Linked DNA regions of Homo sapiens. The protein of the gene in region 1 interacts with the protein of each later gene in a pairwise test. Each region holds a gene or a part of one and is shown in the gene's direction. Other genes may lie near its edges.

What was found. Proteins that work in one complex are often made in the same cells at the same time.
Region 2: the proteins of C22orf39 (region 1) and KRTAP13-2 interact in binary tests that used the Homo sapiens proteins (3 or more experiments, as listed by UniProt).
Region 3: the proteins of C22orf39 (region 1) and NFATC2IP interact in binary tests that used the Homo sapiens proteins (3 or more experiments, as listed by UniProt).

What each region holds. Positions count from the first base shown.
Region 1 is NC_000022.11:19,444,705-19,452,026, reverse strand, and holds the start of C22orf39 (synaptic plasticity regulator PANTS), read left to right. Parts: upstream 1-4,315; 5' UTR 4,316-4,338; coding exon 4,339-4,362; exon of another isoform or gene 4,363-4,481; coding exon 4,482-4,649; intron 4,650-7,322. Other genes in the region: UFD1 (ubiquitin recognition factor in ER-associated degradation protein 1), read left to right, coding at 1,283-1,357. UniProt on the Homo sapiens protein: Negatively regulates long-term potentiation and modulates adult synaptic plasticity. Stabilizes the interaction of RTN4 isoform A/Nogo-A with its receptors, inhibiting clustering of postsynaptic AMPA receptors at synaptic sites.
Region 2 is NC_000021.9:30,370,877-30,376,675, reverse strand, and holds KRTAP13-2 (keratin-associated protein 13-2), read left to right. Parts: upstream 1-4,404; 5' UTR 4,405-4,462; coding exon 4,463-4,990; 3' UTR 4,991-5,286; downstream 5,287-5,799. UniProt on the Homo sapiens protein: In the hair cortex, hair keratin intermediate filaments are embedded in an interfilamentous matrix, consisting of hair keratin-associated proteins (KRTAP), which are essential for the formation of a rigid and resistant hair shaft through their extensive disulfide bond cross-linking with abundant cysteine residues of hair keratins.
Region 3 is NC_000016.10:28,946,270-28,953,949, forward strand, and holds the start of NFATC2IP (NFATC2-interacting protein), read left to right. Parts: upstream 1-4,667; 5' UTR 4,668-4,742; coding exon 4,743-5,129; intron 5,130-5,862; coding exon 5,863-5,935; intron 5,936-6,632; exon of another isoform or gene 6,633-7,680. UniProt on the Homo sapiens protein: In T-helper 2 (Th2) cells, regulates the magnitude of NFAT-driven transcription of a specific subset of cytokine genes, including IL3, IL4, IL5 and IL13, but not IL2.

The sequences.
Region 1 (7,322 bases):
GATAATCCTCATGCATCTTTTCTCAGGAAGCTCCTAGGAGGTGTTCCTCACTAAAATGAAGGAATAAGGTAGAAATAAGAAAGTCATAGAATCCAGGAAATAAGGAGCCCCCACTAACATGTACGGCACCTAGAGAAAGGCCAGTCCAGGTACGGCAGGGCGAAGGCCCAGGAGACACAGGTTTGTCAAAACAGATGAACTCCATGCAATGCAGGCTGTGATTGAATAGAGGAAGAAGCCAAACACAGCTATTGACACCAGGATGAATGGAAGGCTGTGCGGCAAAGGAAGACTAAATGCAGCTGTGACTCAAATTTACATGAATGTGACCACATAAATACTAAACAGTGCTCTATTGCAGGTATAACATGCTACAGTTAGTGGGGAGCCAGGTGCAGGGATGTGTGTTGAACATTCCAGAATCCTCTTCTTCCTAGGGAAAAGTTGAGATAATGCCTCAGACTGACTAGCAATAAAAGCATGTGAAAAAAAATATGTGCAGTTTTCAAAGGTTTGGGAAAAAACAATCCCTCTTTCTGCTGATGGAAGGATAGCTTAGTGGAATGTTTCTGAGGGCTGGTTGGTCTCTATATGTTAAAAGCATTAAAAGTGTGTACACACTTTGACCCAGGAATTTGAGCTCTAAAAAAAATCAGAGTTGTGTGCAAATACATTAAGCTGCTTACCACAACAATGTCCACTGGTAGAAAACTGGCCCTCCTACATCATGGAATTCTTTTTTACAGAATTCAGTTCTGTAGCCTTGGGAGTATACTAGACAGGAAGTTTATTGGCATGAGATTTCAGAATTAAGTGGGAAAACAATTCTTTAAGCATGTACAGAAAAGTGACCTGAAATGTTTTTGGGTGATGAACTTACAGACTTTTTTTTTTTTTTTTTTTTTTGAGGCAGGGTCTTGCTCTGTTGCTCTGCCATCCAGGCTGGAGCAGTGGCACAATCATAGCTCACTATGGCCCTGGCTCAAACCATCCTCCCGTCTCAGCCTCCCAAGTAGCTGGGATCATAGGCACATACCACACTGAGCTATTTTTGGTAGAGATGGGATCTCACTATGTTGCCCAGGCTGGTCTTGAACTCCTGGGCTCAAGTGATCCTCCCACCTAGGCCTCCTAAAGTGCTGGGATTACAGGTGTCAGCTATCGTGTCCAGCCTGAGATATTTCTTATGAGTAATGTGGATGGTACGTGAGTCCATAGAGTAAGGCATTTATTGTAAACCTCCAGGGAGTTTCTGAAAATAGTATCTTCTCTTCAAACCTAGGATGAAGCTGGAGGCAGATTCGTCGCTTTCTCTGGAGAAGGACAGTCATTGCGTAAAAAGGGAAGAAAGCCCTAAGTGAGGACTGTTGGCTGATTGGAAAATAATAAAAGAATCATTTGCAACATCTTGGCTTTTAGTTACTGGCACTGACAGGGACGAGCCTCATCAGAGAATACTCTGTTACTTAAGATTTATTTAGAGTTACCTAAGAATTATTAAGTTTGACTTGGAAGTGGAGCAGCAGGACTTTGTAGTTGTATGCTTGATTTGGGGAAAGACAAAGAGCTGTCCCTGAGGGCCTGTAGATAGCTGCCTCCTCACCTCTTCACGCTTTCAGCTTGAGGGGAGCTCCCACTGCCTCAGCAGGAGCAATTCTGCATCCCTAATTCTGTCAAAACCTATGAAGGTGACTAAATTGTCTAACATGAAGTGTTCTTTCTTTTTCTTCATTTATCCTTTCTTTTCCTACATCAATTGCATAGGTGTCAGTCTTTGGCCTAAAAAAAGGCTTTAAATAGACATGTGTTCTATAAGTAGTGGCTGTCCCACTACTGTGGCTGCAATTTAAGTATTTGACAAAGAATGTTTCTATTTTTATTTTACATATTTTTTTCAAAAACACCACTCAGAAGAACCTGATCTGAATGAGTTTGCACTTTTATTCTCATTTCATATGGACATAACTGGCTCCTTAGTGAACCTGTTCATAGTGAAACAACTCCATGGAGAAGCAAACATGTGAATGTTAGAATGAACAAATGCTAAAGAGATGTTCCTCTCCTTCTTCCCTACTCCCCAACTCCCAATTTTAATTTATTAAATCATCCAAGCTTCTGCTGGCCTGTATTTTTTATCAGTATTTATTTGGTCTTAGATCTTCACTTTCTATAACGTGAGATCTTTTGACATGCTAATCTGATTATTTTAAATTTGTTCCCATGAGCCACTGTGCCTGGCCCCATTGGGAATAATTCTAAGCCAAGAATTTCAAGTAAAAACAGGCAATAACTAAAGCCTAAATCTAAATGTTTGATTAGGTACTAACACAGACTGGTGGTTGGGCCTCTGACCATAACTGAAGGCCTGTTGGCAGGTGCTCCGTGTTCCATCTCACCATTAGAAAAGTGTCCCTCTGGGGCTTCTCCTGGAGAAAGTAGGAAGAAACAAGGCTGCCTGATCCCTAGGTGGCAATGGCTAAGCCCAGCAGGGTCCCCCATGAGCCAGGGCTAACCCTGCTTCCAGACATGGGGGTCCTGCCCTGGTCAGGGCCCCTCCAACACTCCAGAGAGGAGAGAATGGTGGCCCCAGGGTCTATCCACGTCTTCAGTGAAGAGTGTCTATGAGTGTCATGATGTTCAGTACTTGGCCTGTGGCACAAACCATCATCACTGGAAATGGGCGTGGTTTTGGAAGGCATGAGCACTGTGGGGACTTACCTGAGCCTCCACTGACAAAGTCTCAGTTTTACTAGCAGAGGGAGAAACCCTTGGTGGGTAGACAGCCTTCATTTGCAGGATCACATCAGCTAACAGACTGTCACTTTATGCATAATGAAGAATGTTACAGTACCTCTGGCTCTGGGTTTTTGTCTTCACTAAGCAACACCTGCTGTGTATGCAGTGAAACGCCTGGTCCTTTGCTGGAGGCACACTCCCCTGCCTGGACCAGGATGGATTCCATTGCAGAGCCTTTTAATGACACAGTGGGGCCAGTTGGAGCACTGATCCTGGTCATTACTCCTGCACCCTGGCCTGCAGCCTTCCTCTCAGTGTCTTATTTGGGCTTGGTCCTTGAGCCGGCTGCCTCAACAGCAGGACCCCTGGTAAAACTGCAGCTTTCTGATCCACCTCCAGGGAGTCTGTCCCAGTGTCATTCCTGGGACTGGCCCAGCAGTCCCAGGATTTGTATCAGTGGATACTGAGGATTTGTTATCAGTGAAGTGGGAGAACCGCAGCATAGGTACTGCAGGGCGTTTCTGCAAGCCCACCAGCCTCCTCTTTACTTGCCTTTGTTGCCTCTTGTGCATTGCTCCTTTTTATAAACGTCCCAGCCAGGCACTGGCGCTCCGCCTATAATCCTAGCACTTTGGGAGGCCAAAGTGAGAGGGTCGCTTGAGGCCAAACTAGCCTGGGTAACTTAGCAAGACCCCATCTTTACAAAAAAAAAAAAAAAAAATTAAAAATTAGCCTGGTGAGGCTGTGCATGCTTTTGGTCCCAGCTGTTCGGAGTCCAGGAGTTTGAGGTTGCAGTAAGCCATGAACACGCCACGCCACTGCACTAAGCCTGGGTGACACAGCAAGACCCTGTCTCGAAAAATGAATAAGGTAAATGTTACATGTCTCCCGCACCCTTAGAATAGAACTACAGACATCCAAGCCACTCCTACCCCGCTCACCCCTGCTACACACCGCCTCCATACCTTTGACCGGCCTATGGCTGTACTCGGATTGCATTCTCAGCCTCCACTTCAAGCCTGCGTTCCCTGGGGAGGTCATTCAACCCTAGATCCACCATATGTCATGCCCAACCAATCTCAGTTACTTTGCGAGTTCACCTCCATCCTGAGTGGACGCTCAAGCAAGACTGCTGGAGCTGCAGATCTGGGAGGTTCGCTGCACCACCTTGATGCTCAGTATGTACTTTTGAAAATATACCGGATTGTTGAGATTTGAGAAAATCTCATAAAGCTGCTGAAAAGAACTGGCCAGAGCCGTGTGATTTGAGAGGCGGCTGACGTAAGGTAGCTGCGCGGCCCAGGATGCCCGCCTGGCCCGGGGTGAATGGCGCTGTCGTCGCGGTGGTCGCGTAGGCTTCGCGCCAGGTCTCGCCCCGGATTTACCCTGCGACCCCGGCCCTCCGCGCGCGCCGCAGCCGCCCTCGGTTGCTATTGGTTGCTCGTCCTGTTTGTCGGCGCTTCTCGAAGAAGGGGGCGAAGACGTGATTGAATGTGTCGGTGCTCATTAGTTCTTCTGTCAGTCGATCACGAGGTGCCGTTTTCTTCATTTTTCATTGGCTGGCGGACTGAGGGGCGGGCTTGGCGCGCCGGTCGCCCAGACATGGCGGACGGCAGCGGCTGGCAGGTGAGTGTGCTGGGTCGGAGCCGGGAACCACCGGGGTCTTCCGGAGGGAGGGAACGGGACTGGCTCGGGGCGTAGGGCGCGGCCGCCGGGCCCCGCTCAGGCGCCGCCTCTCGCCGCAGCCGCCGCGCCCCTGCGAGGCCTACCGCGCCGAGTGGAAGCTCTGCCGCAGCGCCAGGCACTTCCTACACCACTACTACGTCCACGGCGAGCGGCCGGCCTGCGAACAGTGGCAGCGCGACCTGGCCAGCTGCCGCGACTGGGAGGAGCGCCGGAACGCCGAGGCCCAGGTGCGCCGGGAGGGAGCGGGGCGGCGCTTCGGAGCGCCTTGCGGGGCCCAGCTTTCCCCACCCCTCCACGCCCCATGCCCCGCGACCTAGCCGGGGACTGACGGGGTCCCTATCCTCCTCACGCTTCCTTTCTTTTGAGAGATTGTGTAAATTAGCATATCAACAGGACTTTCAGAGGGCGTGAAAGACAAAGGAGGAGACCAGCGAGGAGGGGGTGTAGAGTGGTTTAGAGAGGGAAGAGGGCAGCCGTCCGGTGTTAGGGTCATCAGCTGGCCTACGCAGGAGGTGATGTTGCTGAGTCCTGAGTGACCAGGAGCCAGCCTTCATCCAGCCCCGGTAGACACCGCTGAGAAACAGATAAGGCCTGGGTTCCTGAAGCAGAGGGTAGGTGGATGGTTGGAGAGCGGTATACCAGGGACCTGGCGGGCCTTTTGATACGGAGTTTAGAGTTTAGTCTAAAGTGTGCTGGGAGGCATAATTCGATTTATATCTTTAAAAGATCAGTCTGTTAGCAAAGTGTGGTGGCGTGCACCTGTGGTCCCAGCTACTTGGGAGGGTGAGGCGGGAGGATCGCCTAAGCCCAGGAGTTCAAAGCTGCAGTGAGCTATGGTCACACCACTGCACACCAGCCTGGATAACAGAGGGAGACCTGTCTCAGGGGGGAAAAAAAAGAGAGAGGGTAAAAGAAGTTCAATCTGTTTGCTAGGGTGTAGAGAATATATTACAGGAGCAGAGAGACCGGTAAGGAGGTGGTTCTAGTTGTTTTTTCGTCCAGCAAATATGTACCACATTGGGTGCTCTTGGGGATGCACGAGTGATAAGAAGAGTCTCTGCCCTCCTGGCACCCACACTGTAGTGTAGAATACAGTGCTACGGTGGACCCCTTGTGGGAGAGGAGATGGAGAGAAGCCAGCCGAAAGGTGCGAGGCTCATGGGGAGTGCCAAGGAATGAGAATCAATGGGACTGATCAACACTTCAACATTATTAAGTGTATACAGTGATCTGAAAGAGATGAACTGATGTGGAAACCAGACTGCTGTATAAAAGAAAATGATGACTATTCCATAATATGTGAAAGTCAAAAAAAGTAAGAAAGCTGACAGCTTATATAGCAAGAGATTGATAACTTTAATGTATATATATGTGCGTGTGTGTGTATAAAGAGCTGTTATATATATATCAATAAGAAATATAGGGATTATTTCAGAATGGAAAAATGGCCAAAGGACACAAAGAAGCAATTCATTAAAAAAGAAAGCCAGCTGGGCATGGTGGTGGGCACCTGTAATCTCGGCACTTTGGGAGGCCGAGGCAAGGGGATCGCTTGAGCCCAGGAGCTTGAGACCAGCCATGGGCAACATGGTGAGACTCCATCTTTATAAAAATAATAAAAAAGGAGAAAAGCCTGGGCATGGTGGCTCATGCCTGTAATCCTAGCACTTTGGGAGGCCGAGGTGGGCAGATCACCTGAGGTCAGGAGTTTGAGACCAGCCTGGCAACATGGCGAAACCCCATCTCTACTAAAAATACGAAAATTAGCCACGCATGGTGGCAAACACCTGTAATCTCAGCTACTCGGGAGGCTGAGATAGGAGAATTGTTTGAACCTGGGAGGCGGAGGTTGCAATGAGCCGAGATCGTGTCACTGCACTCCAGCCTGGGCAACAGAGTAAGACTCCCTCTCAAGAAAAAAAAAGAAAAAATCAAATGGCCAGGTGTCAGGTATATAAGTCTAAATGACAGTAACAGCAGAAAGTGGTGTTGATAGAGGTTTGAAGAATTCTGGGTAGTTGTGCAGTGTTGGTGGGGGTGTCAGGTGTTCTGATTATGTAAATGTCAGATACATACCTTTTGACCTTAAGTTTTACTTCTGGAACTTTATCCCAGGGAAGTAATTGGATAACAGTGTACAGTTAAAAGTTAGAATGCTAATTATGTTTTTGATACTGCAAAAGCTGAAAACAACCTAAATTTCACTAATAGACATTTGACCAAATAGCTTTTTCCACAAAGTGAAATACCAGATAGCCTTTGAAAAGAATGGTCGGTCATCTCCCTGGGTATGGAAAAGTGCCTACAGTGTATTGTTTAGTGAAAAGAAAGCAGGAAGTAGACTAGCCAGCAAAAGATTATCCTATCTTTAGGGAAACATGTTAGCTCTAAAATGTGGACCAAAAAAAGATATCAGGGAAGCTGTTAACTGCCGCATTGGGAATGGACATTTGGGAATCTTTAATATTCTGTACTACATTTCTGATAGCTTTTTAAACACGATCAAAATATTTTATTTGAGGCAATAGAGCTTGAACAAAGACAGACATGTAGACAGATTAAGTTATCTGTGTAAAGAGGCTCACATAGCACCTGATACCTACCAAGGGCTGACAGCAAAGGTCACCCATGTTGTGATACACTGACTTGTGTCTGTATTGGGAGACAGTAGCCAAGAGAAGCTGATGGGTTAAGTGGCACTTGTGGCACCACTCAGGCGGGTGGTCTGTCCTCTGGACTCTTCCCACCCTTCCAGGATACCCAGGACATGTATTTCTTCCCCGTCTTCCTCCCTTCTCCCTAACACACTCCTCCCTGCAGCTCCCCACAGCTGCTCTCTCAGACTCTTCTCTCCTCTCCACCCAGCACCCCCAGGCTCACTCTCAGCAGGTGAATATGCC
Region 2 (5,799 bases), on another chromosome or scaffold:
GCTGAGAACAGTGCCTGACATTTAAAAGTTCTACTGTAGTGATAATAAATGCACAAATATATAAATATCAACTTGGATATGTTTTAGATATTTTTATTTAAATAAATTTAATATAAAAAGAAAGCTACAGATACATATATGTATCCAATAAGATGGCATTTTTGTAACTTAAAACAACAATAAATGGTATAAACCGATAAATATATGTATAGACAATTTCCTGGAATGCTATGCAAAAACGAATGCATTATTGTGATGCCTTTGGAAAGATATGAAAAAGAATCAGACTGAGAGACTGGCCCACAAGGGGTCTCTCTCTGTAAGATAGCGAATAGAATGGTGGTTACCATAGGCTTGCAAGGGTAGTGGAAAGAAAGGACAGAGAGGTGTTGGTTAATGGGTGCAAAAATATAGTTAGATAGGAGGAATAAGATCTAGTGTTCAGTAACACAGTACAGCAACTGTGGTTAACAATAATGTATTGCATATTTCAAAATAACTAGAAAAGTAGATTTGGAATGTTCTCAACACAAAAAAAATGATAAATGTTTAAGGTGATGGATATGCCAGTTACCCAGATTTGATCATTACACATCGTGTGCCTGTATCAAAATATCACATGTACCCCATTAATATGCGCAACATTATGTATCCATAAACATTTAAAATAAAAAAGAGAAAGATGAACGCAAATCTGACAACGTGGTAACAATTGTGAGTTTAGGCATCCAGAAAATGACTCTAGAATTTACTTTAATTTTCTATTTGTTTTCAGTAAATGCAAGGGTAAGGTCTCAGAAGAGATAAGAAGAACCGAGAGGTGTGTAAGCAGGCTGTTTATAAATCTTTTTGTTTGTTTGTTTGTTTGAGACGGAATCTCACTCTGTCGCCCAGGCTGGAGTGCAGTGGCATGACCTTGGCTCACTGCAACCTCTGCCTTCCAGTTTCAAGCGATTCTCCTGCCTCAGCCTCTCCAGTAGCTGGGATTACAGATGTCTGCCACCACGCCTGGCTAATTTTTGTATTTTTAGTAGAGACGGGATTTCGCCATGTTTGAAAGGCTGGTCTCAAACTCCTGACCTCGTGATCCACCTGCCTCGGCCTCCCAAAGTGCTGGGATTACAGGCGTGAGCCACTGCGCCCAGCCTGGCCTTTTTATTTCAAACGAAAGTCATGGATGATGAAGACATAAAATGGATGAATTTGAAGCAGGAAGAGCTGTAGTGAAGTTAGAGGAGGTGCCAGGGCCTGGAAAAGTCTCAAACAATGAGGCCGGATGACCTCCGAGAAAGCCACAGGCCTGGGTAGGCTTGCATGGGGGACTGGGAAGAGACCATGAACAGGTTAGTCCAGGGAGTTCTCATCAAGCCTTTACTCAGTAGTGGGTTCTTCATAGTTAGCATTAATGTTTAATAGATACATTTCCCCTTGGGTGAGAATTTTAAAAATAAAATCTAGTGTAAAGCAGCTGTTATGAAGACTCTTTAGTGACCAGACAATAAAAGCCTCTCCTAGGTCTAGAGAAGGCAGAAAATTAAAAAGTGAACAGAAAGTAAAAAGGTGGCCGGACGCGGTGGCTCACGCCTGTAATCCCAGCACTTTGGGAGGCCGAGGCGGGTGGATCATGAGGTCAGGAGATCAAGACCATCCTGGCTAACATGGGGAAACCCCGTCTCTACTAAAAATACAAAAAATTAGCCAGGCGTGGTGGCGGGCACCTGTAGTCCCAGCTACTCGGGAGGCTGAGGCAAGAGAATGGTGTGAACCCGGGAGGCAGAGCTTGCAGTGAGCCAAGATTGCACCACTGTACTCCAGCCTGGGTGACAGAGCCAGACTCCGTCTCGGAAAAAAAAAAAAAAAAAAGAAAGTAAAAAAGGTATAGGGCAGTATATATGGATTTTTACTATTTCTACTACTGCCTAATATTTGGTTAATTTGAAAGCTTTTGAAGAATCTCTGGAAACATTGCAATAGAAGATTGTCAGTTTAAAGCTTCTGCTACATTACTATGTTAACTTGGAAAAACAATCACTTTTCAAGTAATTCAGATCATAGGCTACTTGTGGCTACTGTGTACTGTAATGATAGTTTTATTCTCTGTAGTGTTGTTATGCCTAAATTTCTAAAGAGAAAAGAGAAAGAAGAAAGAAAGAAAGAGAAAAGAAAGAAAGAAATAGAAAGAAAGAGAAACAGAGAAAGAGAGAGAGGGAGAAAGGGAGGGAAGGAGGCAGAGAGAGAGGGAGGGAGGGAAAGAAAAGAAAGAAAAAGAAAAGGAAAGAGAGGCAGAGAAAGAAAAGAAAGAAAAAGAAAAAGAAAGAGGGAGGGAGGGAAGGAAGGAAGGAGAGAGAGAGAAAAGATTTCAATATCACGTTTTCCCTGACATATCAAGATAGTGAATTTTTCTTTCTATACTAATACTTTGCCTGTGTATGTAGAGTACGTAGAGTATTTTATTAGTTCCAGAATCCACTTTTGAACTGTTAAGGCTACTCTAGTTTTGTTCTGCTTTTTCTGCCTTTCAGATGGACACATTTATTAGCATTTGGGAGTTGTTCATTAGCATTTGTACAAAGTGCACAAATAACTCCTAATAAAAAGTGTTAACCCAATTAGGAATGGGTGGAGGGACTGTTAATTGGAACTGACTTACTCCCAAGTTATTTTAGTGTTTATTCCCAGACATAGGGAGCTGGTCTAGAAAGGCAAGAACTTTTGGATATTAGTAAGTTTTTTGTTTTCTTTTTTTTGAGCAGAATCAACCTGTAGTAAGAAAAGAAAAATATTTCTCATTTTAAAGGTGTTAAAAGCTGCCATTATAAGGAATCCCATGTGTTGGGGGTGGTGCATACTTTTTGGTGAATTTAATAGGTGTCCATTCATAAAGCACAGCTTATTTTACTTCAGTGAATCAGAGTGATGGTTTAAGTATTGCACAAGGGCACTTCATGTGATGCATGCCACACTTTGGATTCTGCATGGGAGAGATAATCATAAAACAAAGTAACTAAGTGCTCTGAAACAGTGTGCTTTGGAATGAAGGAAGTTAATTTTCAGGTAGTTAAGAGGCTCTCTTTTCGATAACCATTGTGAATGCCATTTCCCTTAGTTAAACCAAATAAAATGTCAAATTCAAAAGAAGAAGAATAGACACAGATAAGAAGCCTCTTCCCCCCATTAATCTAAACATGGATTACCAATATTCTTTCTCTTTCTTGGGCTAGGAAGTGAAATATACTTCAAATGTATGAAGATCAGTAAGGCATAGAATTCCCCAGTTGAACACTATTCAGTGTGAATATTGTTAGGAAAAGTAAATAAGGCTTTGTTAGGCTTTTATATCTTAGTATAAATAAGCTTAATAGTTTCTTTTCTGAGACAAGTTAAAGTTGAATTTACTTTTATATTTGCAAGGTATTTGCAACTTGACTCTGAATAAGAAAACCATAATTAAAGCTTCAATTTTGCTTCTATCTTACTGAGAAATTAGGGGAAAGTTAAAGCTCTCTGAGAGGTAATTTTTCCATGTATGGGTTGAACAGGGGATGTTTAAAGACCCATATAACTCTAATACTTCAAGTTAAAAGCTTCAGAAAAATGTTAACAATTCCTCAAAGTTTAAGTATAAATTAATAATTGCAGCTAAGAATCTGTCCTTTTATCCAGAAAAAAAAATTGAAACATAAAACAAAATAAAATTTATGAGTTGATTTAGAGCATAACCATAGAATAGTGCTTGCTACAAGATAGGTTCATCAGAAAATATCTGAAAAACTTCAATTTAAAGTCTTACTAAAAAGTTTGTGTTTATTGTTTCCTAAGTGAGCATTGTCTAAAGTAGCCTCTTGTTAAGGAAGATGCCTGATATGGACACCCAACATAATGCTGCACTCCTCAGTTCTGATCCTGAGCTCTTAAGGTACTAGTAAAAGGTTTAACTGACAGATTGCTGAGGCTACTGAATACAGTTAGTATTTGGAGAAATCCTCCGTTTCTGGTAACAAATAATATGCTTGTGTTAAAAAGAAGGACAATCTATTTTGAGTAGTAACCACTGATGCTCCTGATAACTTAAGGGAAGTAAAGAAAGAATTTTGTGTAATTCCATTTGGTACAATAAGGACTCACTGTACTCAAATAATAAGAGGCAAGATACTCATAAATGTGATGACATATAACATTGAAGGTCAAACCACAGTGAATTCCAGGAAAAAAAAAAACTGAGTGGCTTCCTTCTAAGTGTTCCAGAGTGACTAAAGTACAAGTAAGTATATGAAGATGTGATAAATTAAACAATAACCTAGGGAAGCATTCTTATAATAAAAAGTGAGCAAGGAGAAGGGAGTGTCGAGACAGTGGACACACCCAGGTCTAAGAGCATATATAACTTGGAGTCCAGACTATGACATTCAAACTCAGAGAATCTTTCCACTATAACTCAGCTGAACTCACATCTCCCGTCAACATGTCCTACAACTGCTGCTCTGGAAACTTCTCCTCCCGCTCCTGTGGTGACTACCTGCGCTACCCAGCATCCTCACGTGGCTTTTCCTACCCCAGCAATCTGGTCTACAGCACTGACCTCTGCTCTCCCAGCACCTGCCAGCTGGGTTCCTCTCTCTATAGGGGCTGTCAGGAGATCTGCTGGGAGCCCACCAGCTGCCAGACGTCCTATGTGGAGTCCAGCCCCTGCCAGACCTCCTGCTACCGCCCCAGAACCTCCTTGCTCTGCAGTCCTTGCAAGACGACTTACTCTGGGTCTCTAGGCTTTGGATCCAGCAGCTGCCGCTCCCTGGGCTATGGATCGAGGAGCTGCTACTCAGTGGGCTGTGGGTCCAGTGGTGTCAGATCCCTGGGTTATGGAAGCTGTGGCTTCCCTTCCCTCGGCTATGGATCTGGATTCTGCCGCCCAACCTACTTGGCTTCTAGGAGCTGCCAGTCTCCTTGTTACAGACCAGCCTATGGATCAACCTTCTGCAGATCAACTTGCTGAATTTCCAGACCTTTTAAGCAAAGTGTCTCAGTCTCTACGTAGAGCTGTTATCATAGGCATTTCCAGCAATGTGAGCTAACCCCTCTTACTACTAGCTCTTCATCCTTTCTCTGGCATCAAGTACTGGCTGGACAGGCTAGTTCTTTCAGACTGTGAAATTAATGAATGAGCAAAATATAGAGTCAAATGTCTATAATTTTGAAACAAGTGATTCGTTATCACGTAAGTTCATCTTATAAAGTATATGGAAGTTCAGTTTTGTTTCACGTAATAAATTCATTTACTGTTGATTCCAATATGTTCTCTTTGTCTTTTATTGGTTTCCAAAGTTTGATTTGTGATCTGTTTTGGGGGCTCCAGGCCCCCAGACGTCTTTTCCTTGGACATCCATTTCCATCGGTAATGTCATCAGGCCTAGTGTGTGGGGAGATTCTCCGGGCATGCCAGTGCCTAAAAGACTGAGCAAGTGCATGTCTTCTGCCATGAAAACTGGTTGGATTCTTAACAGAATTATTGAGAGTACACTCATAATGGTGGTGTGTTTTCAAGGAAGACACATTTTGCTGACAATCATATTTGCTTTTTGTTTACATTTTTAAAAGAGTATTTAGAGTTTTCTCAGAAGATGTCAACTAGGTGATTAAATATAAAATTATGAAATATTTGAATAAATCTGAAATGTTATGATGGAAAAGGGAAAATATGAAATGTTAGGTACTGGAGGACATTACGGTTGTGTTTAAATATAGGAGAAAATTAATTATTCAGTGTGTGTGTGTGTTTGTGTTGTGTGTGTGTGAGAAAGAGAG
Region 3 (7,680 bases), on another chromosome or scaffold:
TTTTGGTTAAAAAGTTGTAAAATGGGCCTGGCGTGATGGCTCACGCCTGTAATCCCAGCACTTTGGGTGGCTGAGGCGGGCGGCTCACCTGAGGTTGGGAGTTCGAGACCAGCCTGACCAACATGGTGAAACTCCATCTCTACTAAAAGTACAAAAAATTAGCCAGGCGTGGTGGCGCATGTCTGTAATCCCAGCTACTCAGGAGGCTGAGGCAGGAGAATCGCTTGAACCCGGGAGGTGGAGGTTGCAGTGATCCAAGATTGTGCCACTGCACTCCAGCCTGGGCAACAAGAGTGGAACTCCATCTCAAAAAAAAAAAAGTTTTAAAATGTATTATTATTTTTCGTAGAGTTGGGGGTTTTACTATATTGCCTAGGCGGGTCTTAACGCTCAGCCTGAAGTGATCCTCCCACCTTGGCCTCCCAAAGTGCTGGGATTACAGACGTGAACCACTGTGCCTGGCCTTAAATTGTATGTATTTATTTATTTTTAGAGAGAGGGTCTTGCTCTGTTGCCCAGGCTCGAGTGAAGTGGTGAGATCATAGCTCACTGCAGCCTTGAACTCCTGGGCTCAATCAGCCTCCCAAGTAGCTAGGACTACAGGTGTGCATCACGACACCCACTAATTATTATTACTTTTTGTAGAGACAGGGTCTTGCTATATTGCCCAGGCTGGCCTTGAACCCTAGACCTCAAGTGATCCTCCCACCTCAGGCTCCCAGTGCTGGGATTACAGGCATAAGCCAACATGCCCGGGCTGGTTTTATTATTGAATAAGCATAATTTTTCTTTCTTTTTTGACATGGAGTTTCACTCTTGTTGCCCATGCTGGAGTGCAATGGCACAATCTCAGCTCACTGGAACCTCTGCCTCCCGGGTTCAAGTGATCCTCCTGCCTCAGGCTCCGGAGTAGTTGGGATTACAGGTGCCCACCACAATGCCTGGCTAATTTTTTGTATTTTTAGTAGAAAAATACACCACCATATTGGCCAGGCTGGTCTCGAACTCCTGACCTCAGGTGATCCAACCACCTCAGCCTCCCAAAGTACTGGGATTAGAGGCGTGAGCCACTGCACCCGGCTTGAATAAGCATTAAGTTAGAATGTGATGCACATCACTGGCAATCTGGTAAAAGATTGCAAAGGCAAAAAGAAATATCCTTCATTACAGCCAAGCAGGTGTAAACCATTATCCTGTTTTCAAGATAAAATTTCAAATTCCATATTGTTACAGGAGCTGCAGGTTCATATGCCCACTGTGCAGTCACAGCTCTGTGACTCTGAGACGGTGGGGATGCAGCAGAGAGAGTTTAATGATTGCAGGGTGCCGAGCGAGGTGATGGGAGGAGACCCTCAAATCTCTCTCCAGGGAGTTCTGGGCTGGGCTTTTAAGGGGTTTGTGGGGAGTGATGGGCTGGAATATTGGGGTCATTGATTGGTTGGGAAGGGGGATGAAATTGTCAGGGTGTAGAAGCTGCATTTTGCGGGGAGTCAGCTCCTTGTGGGGTCCTTCAGGTCAGCTGAATCAGTAGTTCCATCAAGACCTGAAGGAATATCTCAAAGGGAACACCTAATGTAATGTCCAAGCCGTGATTCAAGAGCAGTTAAGGGGAACTATAATCTTCTGACAGGGGCTGTGTGACTGTGGGGCAACAGGCACCAGATGGCTTTGGGGAAGCAGGTCAGGGAGCAGCTGCCCTGAGATCAATGCTGAGTGCACCGCAAGTTTGGTTTCTTTTCATTTCTCCCTCTCCCTTCTTCTCAAGTTTATAGGGGTGGTTGCAATACCATGTTTTCAAGATAAACAATGACTAGTCCTCACGTAAGAGGACGTGACAACACCTTTAGTCAAACATAGTTCAGCCTTTTTTTTTTTTTTTTTTTTTTGAGACGGAGTCTCGCTCTGTCGCCCAGGCTGGAGTGCAGTGGTGCAATCTCGGCTCACTGCAACCTGCGCCTCCTGGGTTCATGCCATGCTCCTGCCTCAGCCTCCCGAGTAGCTGGGACTACAGGCGCCCGCCACCACGCCCAGCTAATTTTTTGTATTTTTTAGTAGAGACAGGGTTTCACTGTGTTAGCCAGGATGGTCTCAATCTCTGGACCTTGTCATCCGCCCGCCTTGGCCTCCCAAAGTGCTGGGATTACAGGTATGGGCCATCGCGCCTGGCTTTTTTTTTTTTCTTTTGCAACAGAGTCTGGCTCTGTCTCCCAGGCTGGAGGGCAATGGCTCGATCTCGGGTCACTGCAACCTCCACCTCCTGGGTTCAACTGATCCTCCTGCCTCAGCCTCCCAAGTAGCTAGGAATACAGGCGCACACCACCATGCCCAGCTAATTTTGTTTTGTATTTTAGTAGAGATGGGGTTTCACCATGTTGGCCAGGCTGGTCTCGAACTCCTGACCTCAAGTGATCCACCCGCCTCGGCCTCCCAAAGTGCTGGGATTACAGGCGTGAGCCACCACGCCTGGCCCCAGTCTAACTTTATGATGGTAAGTGGGGTGACCACCTGTGTTATTGAATTGGCTTGTATGGTAGGGGTGAGTAGACACAAACTTTTCATATCTTTAGGACAGGAGGTAGCCTGCATCTTGGAGCAAGACTGAAGCCAAGCTTTTCCCTCCTAGGGGAAATGGGAGACAAGAGAGCTAACTGCCTTGACGACGGCATTTCGTCAGGGCTCCCAGGTCCTTGAATTCCTGAATTTGGAGACTGGCAAGTGGCTTATGTAGCCATCATGAAGATTTACATATGCCAGGCTGGGTGCTGTGGCTCACACCTGTAATCCCCGCACTTTGGGAGGCCGAGCCAGGTGGATCACTTGAGGTCAGGAGTTCAAGACCGGCCTGGGCAACATGGTGAAACCCCGTCTCTACTAAAAATACAAAAATTAGCTGGGCAAGGTGGCAGGCAACAGTAATCCCAGCTACTCGGGAAGCTGAGGCAAGAGAATCCTTTGAACCCTGAAGGTGGAGGTTGCAATGAGCTGAGATCGCACCATTGCACTCCAGCCTGGGCAACAGAGCAAAACTCCGAATCAAGAAAAAGAAAAAAATAAAATAAATAGTCGGGCGCAGTGGCTCACGCCTGTAATCCCAGCACTTTGGGAGGCCAAGGCGGGGGCGGAGGGGGGTGGATCACCTGAGGTCAGGAGTTCAAGACCAGCCTGACCAACATGGTGAGACCCCATCTCCACTAAAAATACAAAATTAGCTGGGCATGGTAGTGCACGCCTGTAATCAATCCCAGCTACTTGGAGACTGAGGCACGAGAATTGCTTGAATCTGGGAGGCAGAGGTTGCAGTGAACCGAGATCGAGCCATTGCACTCCAGCCTGGGCAATAAGAGCGAAACTCCATCTCAAAATAAATAAATAAATAAAATTAAATAAATGAATAAAATAAAATTTAAAAATAAATAAATACATAAGATTTTTTTTTGAGATGGAGTCTCACTCTGTTGCCCAGGCTGGAGTGCAGTGGTACAATCTTGGCTCAGTGCAACCTCTGCCTCCTGGGTTCCAGCGATTCTCCTGCCTCAGCCTCCCGAGTAGCTGAGATTATAGGCGCCTGCCACTACGCCTGTCTAATTTTTGTATTTTAGTAGAGACAGGGTTTTACCATGTTGGTCAGGCTGGTCTCGAACTCCTGACCTCAGGTGATCTGCCCACCTCGGCCTCCCAAAGTGCTGGATTATAGGCGTGAGCCACCACGCCCAGCCTTATTATTTCTATCTTTCTTTCTTTTTTTGAGAGAGAGTCTCGCTCTGTCGGCCAGGCTGGAGTGCAGCGGCAGGATCTGGCTCACTGTAACCTCTGCCTCCCGGGCTCAAGCAATTCTCCTGCCTCAGCCTCCTGAGTAGCTGGGATTACAGGCGCACGCCACCACGCCCGCCTAATTTTTGTATTTTTAGTAGAGACGGGGTTTCACCGTGTTGGCCAGGCTGGTCTTGAACTTCTGACCTCGTGATTCGCCTGCCTCGGCCTCCCAAAGTGCTGGGATTACAGGCGTGAGCCACCGCGCGCGGCCAGCCTTATTATTTCTTTAAAGCATTTTTGAGACAGGGTCTCGCCCTGTCACCCAGGCTGGGGTGCAGTGGTGCGATCTCCGCCTCCCGGGCTCCAGCGAAACTCCCACCTCAGCCTCCTGAGTAGTTGGGACCACAGAGGGGTGCCACCACGCCCGGGTAATTTTTGCATTCTTAGTAGAGACGCGGTTTCGCCACATTGGCCAGGCTGGTCTCAAACTCCTGAGCTCAACCAATCTGCCCGCCTCAGCCTTTCAAAGTGCCAGGATTACGGGCGTGAGGCACCGCGCCTGGTTAAATCCGCGGTTTCCACAGGGAATTCCAGGCCCGCCTTCCTTCTCCCGGAAACCTTACCGCTCGAGGACTACATTTCCCAGGATGCCCTGCGACTAACCAAGCCGGAAGACGGTTGTCTTGGTTGGGCGGGTCCGGGAGAGGCTCGTCTGTGGAGAGGTGGCCCAGCCAATGGGTGAGGCCGACTGAATCGAAAGCTACGGTGATTGTGCCGAGGTGATTGGAATCTTTGGCGCCTTGGTTTCAGAGGTGGGCGCATGATGAGCGGGTACAGAGACCAATGAAAAGGCGGGAAGGCGGATCCCGCGCGTGGGGCGCGAAGAGTTGCTGACGAGCAGGCTGTTTGTCCAATGCAAGGCGAAAGTCGCTGAAGGGGGCGGGGCGAGGCGAGAGGAGGCGGGCGTGTGTTGTGGAGGAAAGTGTGCCATGGCGGAGCCTGTGGGGAAGCGGGGCCGCTGGTCCGGAGGTAGCGGTGCCGGCCGAGGGGGTCGGGGCGGCTGGGGCGGTCGGGGCCGGCGTCCTCGGGCCCAGCGGTCTCCATCCCGGGGCACGCTGGACGTAGTGTCTGTGGACTTGGTCACCGACAGCGATGAGGAAATTCTGGAGGTCGCCACCGCTCGCGGTGCCGCGGACGAGGTTGAGGTGGAGCCCCCGGAGCCCCCGGGGCCGGTCGCGTCCCGGGATAACAGCAACAGTGACAGCGAAGGGGAGGACAGGCGGCCCGCAGGACCCCCGCGGGAGCCGGTCAGGCGGCGGCGGCGGCTGGTGCTGGATCCGGGGGAGGCGCCGCTGGTTCCGGTGTACTCGGGGAAGGTGCGCCCGGTCCCGGGGAGGGGACCGGCGGAAGGGCCAAGGGCTTGGCCTCCAGGGAGGGGCCGGCGTTCGGGGAGGGTAGGGCTATAGGGGTGTTGAGGCTGGCGTTCTGGGGCTGGTCCTCGGGCGTTAGGGTGTTGGAGGCAGGGAGAGGCAGGGCTCCGGGACTTTCTGCAGACTGGGGTGGTGAAGGAGGGTGGGATGCGTTGGAAGTTTAGGATTCCTAGGAGCTAGAGTCTTGGGGGCACAGGGAGGCTGAAGAGCTGGGATTCCTGAGATTTTGGAGAGGGACTGGGAGGACCTGGGGCCGTTGGATTTTGAGGTTGGGGTCCATGGCAAATGAAGCCAGGGAGCTGCAGTATTGGGGGTTGGGGTCCATGCGGGTTCAGAGAGGACTGGGCGGCTCCAGAGGCTGGGGTCCCCCGATGGTCGTGTGAGCAATGGGCTGAGAGTCCCTAAGAGTCAGGGGTAGAGGGGCGGCTAGTAACCTAGTTAAAAAGGGCAAGGAAGCATACATTTCAGAGTGTCTTAGGCAGATGGAGGAAAGGGTGAAGGGTACTTCCATTCTGAATCCTGGGGAAGCTGGACTTCTAGGTTGCCAGGAGAGGGCCAAGGTGTCCACGATCTTAGGGAGGATTTGGGAGCTGGGTGTCAGGGAAGAATTACCCCCAATTTTTTCTTTCGGTAGGGGAAGGACTTGGGCCTGACCCCTCTCCCTTCTTTGTCTTTGCAGGTTAAAAGCAGCCTTCGCCTTATCCCAGATGATCTATCCCTCCTGAAACTCTACCCTCCAGGGGATGAGGAAGGTAAGGGAGGGCCTCCAGGGAGAGGCACGCAGCCGCTGGCTTCTCTTAAGAGAATTCCTGGGGTTTATATTCCTGCAGTCAGTTGTCTCCTGAGGCTCAAGGGAAGAGCGTGGGAGAGGGGACTCCTGCATCCCAGCCACAGGAGCTGGATTGTTAACAAGCATAGAATGTATTAATGTATACATTTCTGGTGCCACCTGAAGAGATGCTGATTCTGTAGTCCTGGGCGGGGCAGGAGGCGGTAAGGTGTTGAGAATCTGTGACATCTTGTTACATCTGCAGCAAGTTCTTTGGGAACACTGGAGCCAGCAGGGTGTTCTCTGAATCTTATCAGGGATGCCCTGTCTTTGTCCTCCCCCACTGATGCATTTTTTGCAAACAACTCAAGGGCGGGGAATAGGAATCTAGTCTAATAAGGAAATAATCCAGTGGGCAAATGGAGACCTTGGACCAAGACTCTTGTACCATGAGGGAGTACAGTGGGGTGATTAAAAGCAAACAGGAGCCATCTGGCCTGGGTTTGAATCTCAGTTCTCTCTTTTTTTTTTTTTTTTTTAGACAGAGTTTCGCTTTTGTTGCCCAAGCTGGAGTGCAATGGCACGATCTCGGCTCGCTGCAACCTCCACCTCCTGGGTTCAAGCGATTCTCCTGCCTCAGCCTTCCCAGTAGCTGACTAATTCCCACCACGCCTGGCTAATTTTTTGTATTTTTAATAGAGATGGGGTTTCACCATGTTGGCCTGGCTGGTCTTGAACTCCTGACCTCAGGTGATCCGCCCATCTTAGCTTCCCAAATTGCTGGGATTACAGGCGTGAGCCACTGTGCCCGGCCTCAGCTCTATCTCTTAATAGCTGTGTGATCTTAGGCGAGTTTCTTTTTTCTTGTTTTGAGACAGAGTCTCACTCTGTCACCCAGGGTGGAGTGTAGTGGCGCAATCTTAGCTCACTGCAACCTCCATCTCCCAGGTTGAAGCCATTCTCCTGCCTCAGCCTCCCGAGTAGCAGGGATTACAGGCGCCCGCCACCATGTCTGGCTTTTTTGTATTTTTAGTAGAGATGGGGTTTCATCATGTTGGCCAGGCTGATCTCGAACTCCTGACCTTAGGTGATCTGTCTGCCTTGGTCACCCAAAGTGCTGGGATTACAGGCGTGAGCCACCACGCCCAGCCTGGGCAAGTTTCTTAATTTCTCAGTGCTTCAATTTCCTCATTATCAAAGTGGGGATAATAGTAGACCCCATTTTGGTGCTGATTTTGGTGAGAATTAACGAAAGGGAATATAGAGAGAGCTGCCTCTTGGCTAGATATATGCTTTAGGACAGTACCTAGGACACAGAAGTGCTACGTAAAAGGTACCTCTATCCCTGATACTCAAAACGTGGGCCCAGCCATATATGGCATCCGTTGGAAGCTTGCTAGAAATGCAGGATCGGCTGGGCACAATGGCTCAAAGTGCTGTAATCCCAGCACTTTGGGAGGCTGAGATGGGAGGATTGCTTGAGCCCAGGAGTTCGAGACCAGCCTGCGCAACATGATGAGACCCTGTTTCTACAGAAAAATAAAAAATTAACCAGGCATGGTGATGTGTACTTGTAGTCCTAGCTACTCAGGAGGCTGAGGTGGGAGAAACACCTGAGCCCAGGAAGTCGAGGCTGCAGTGAGCCATGATCATGCCACTGCACTCCAACCTGGGTGACACAGTAGGACCTGGTCTCAAAAAAAAAAAAAGAAAAACGAAATGCAGAAT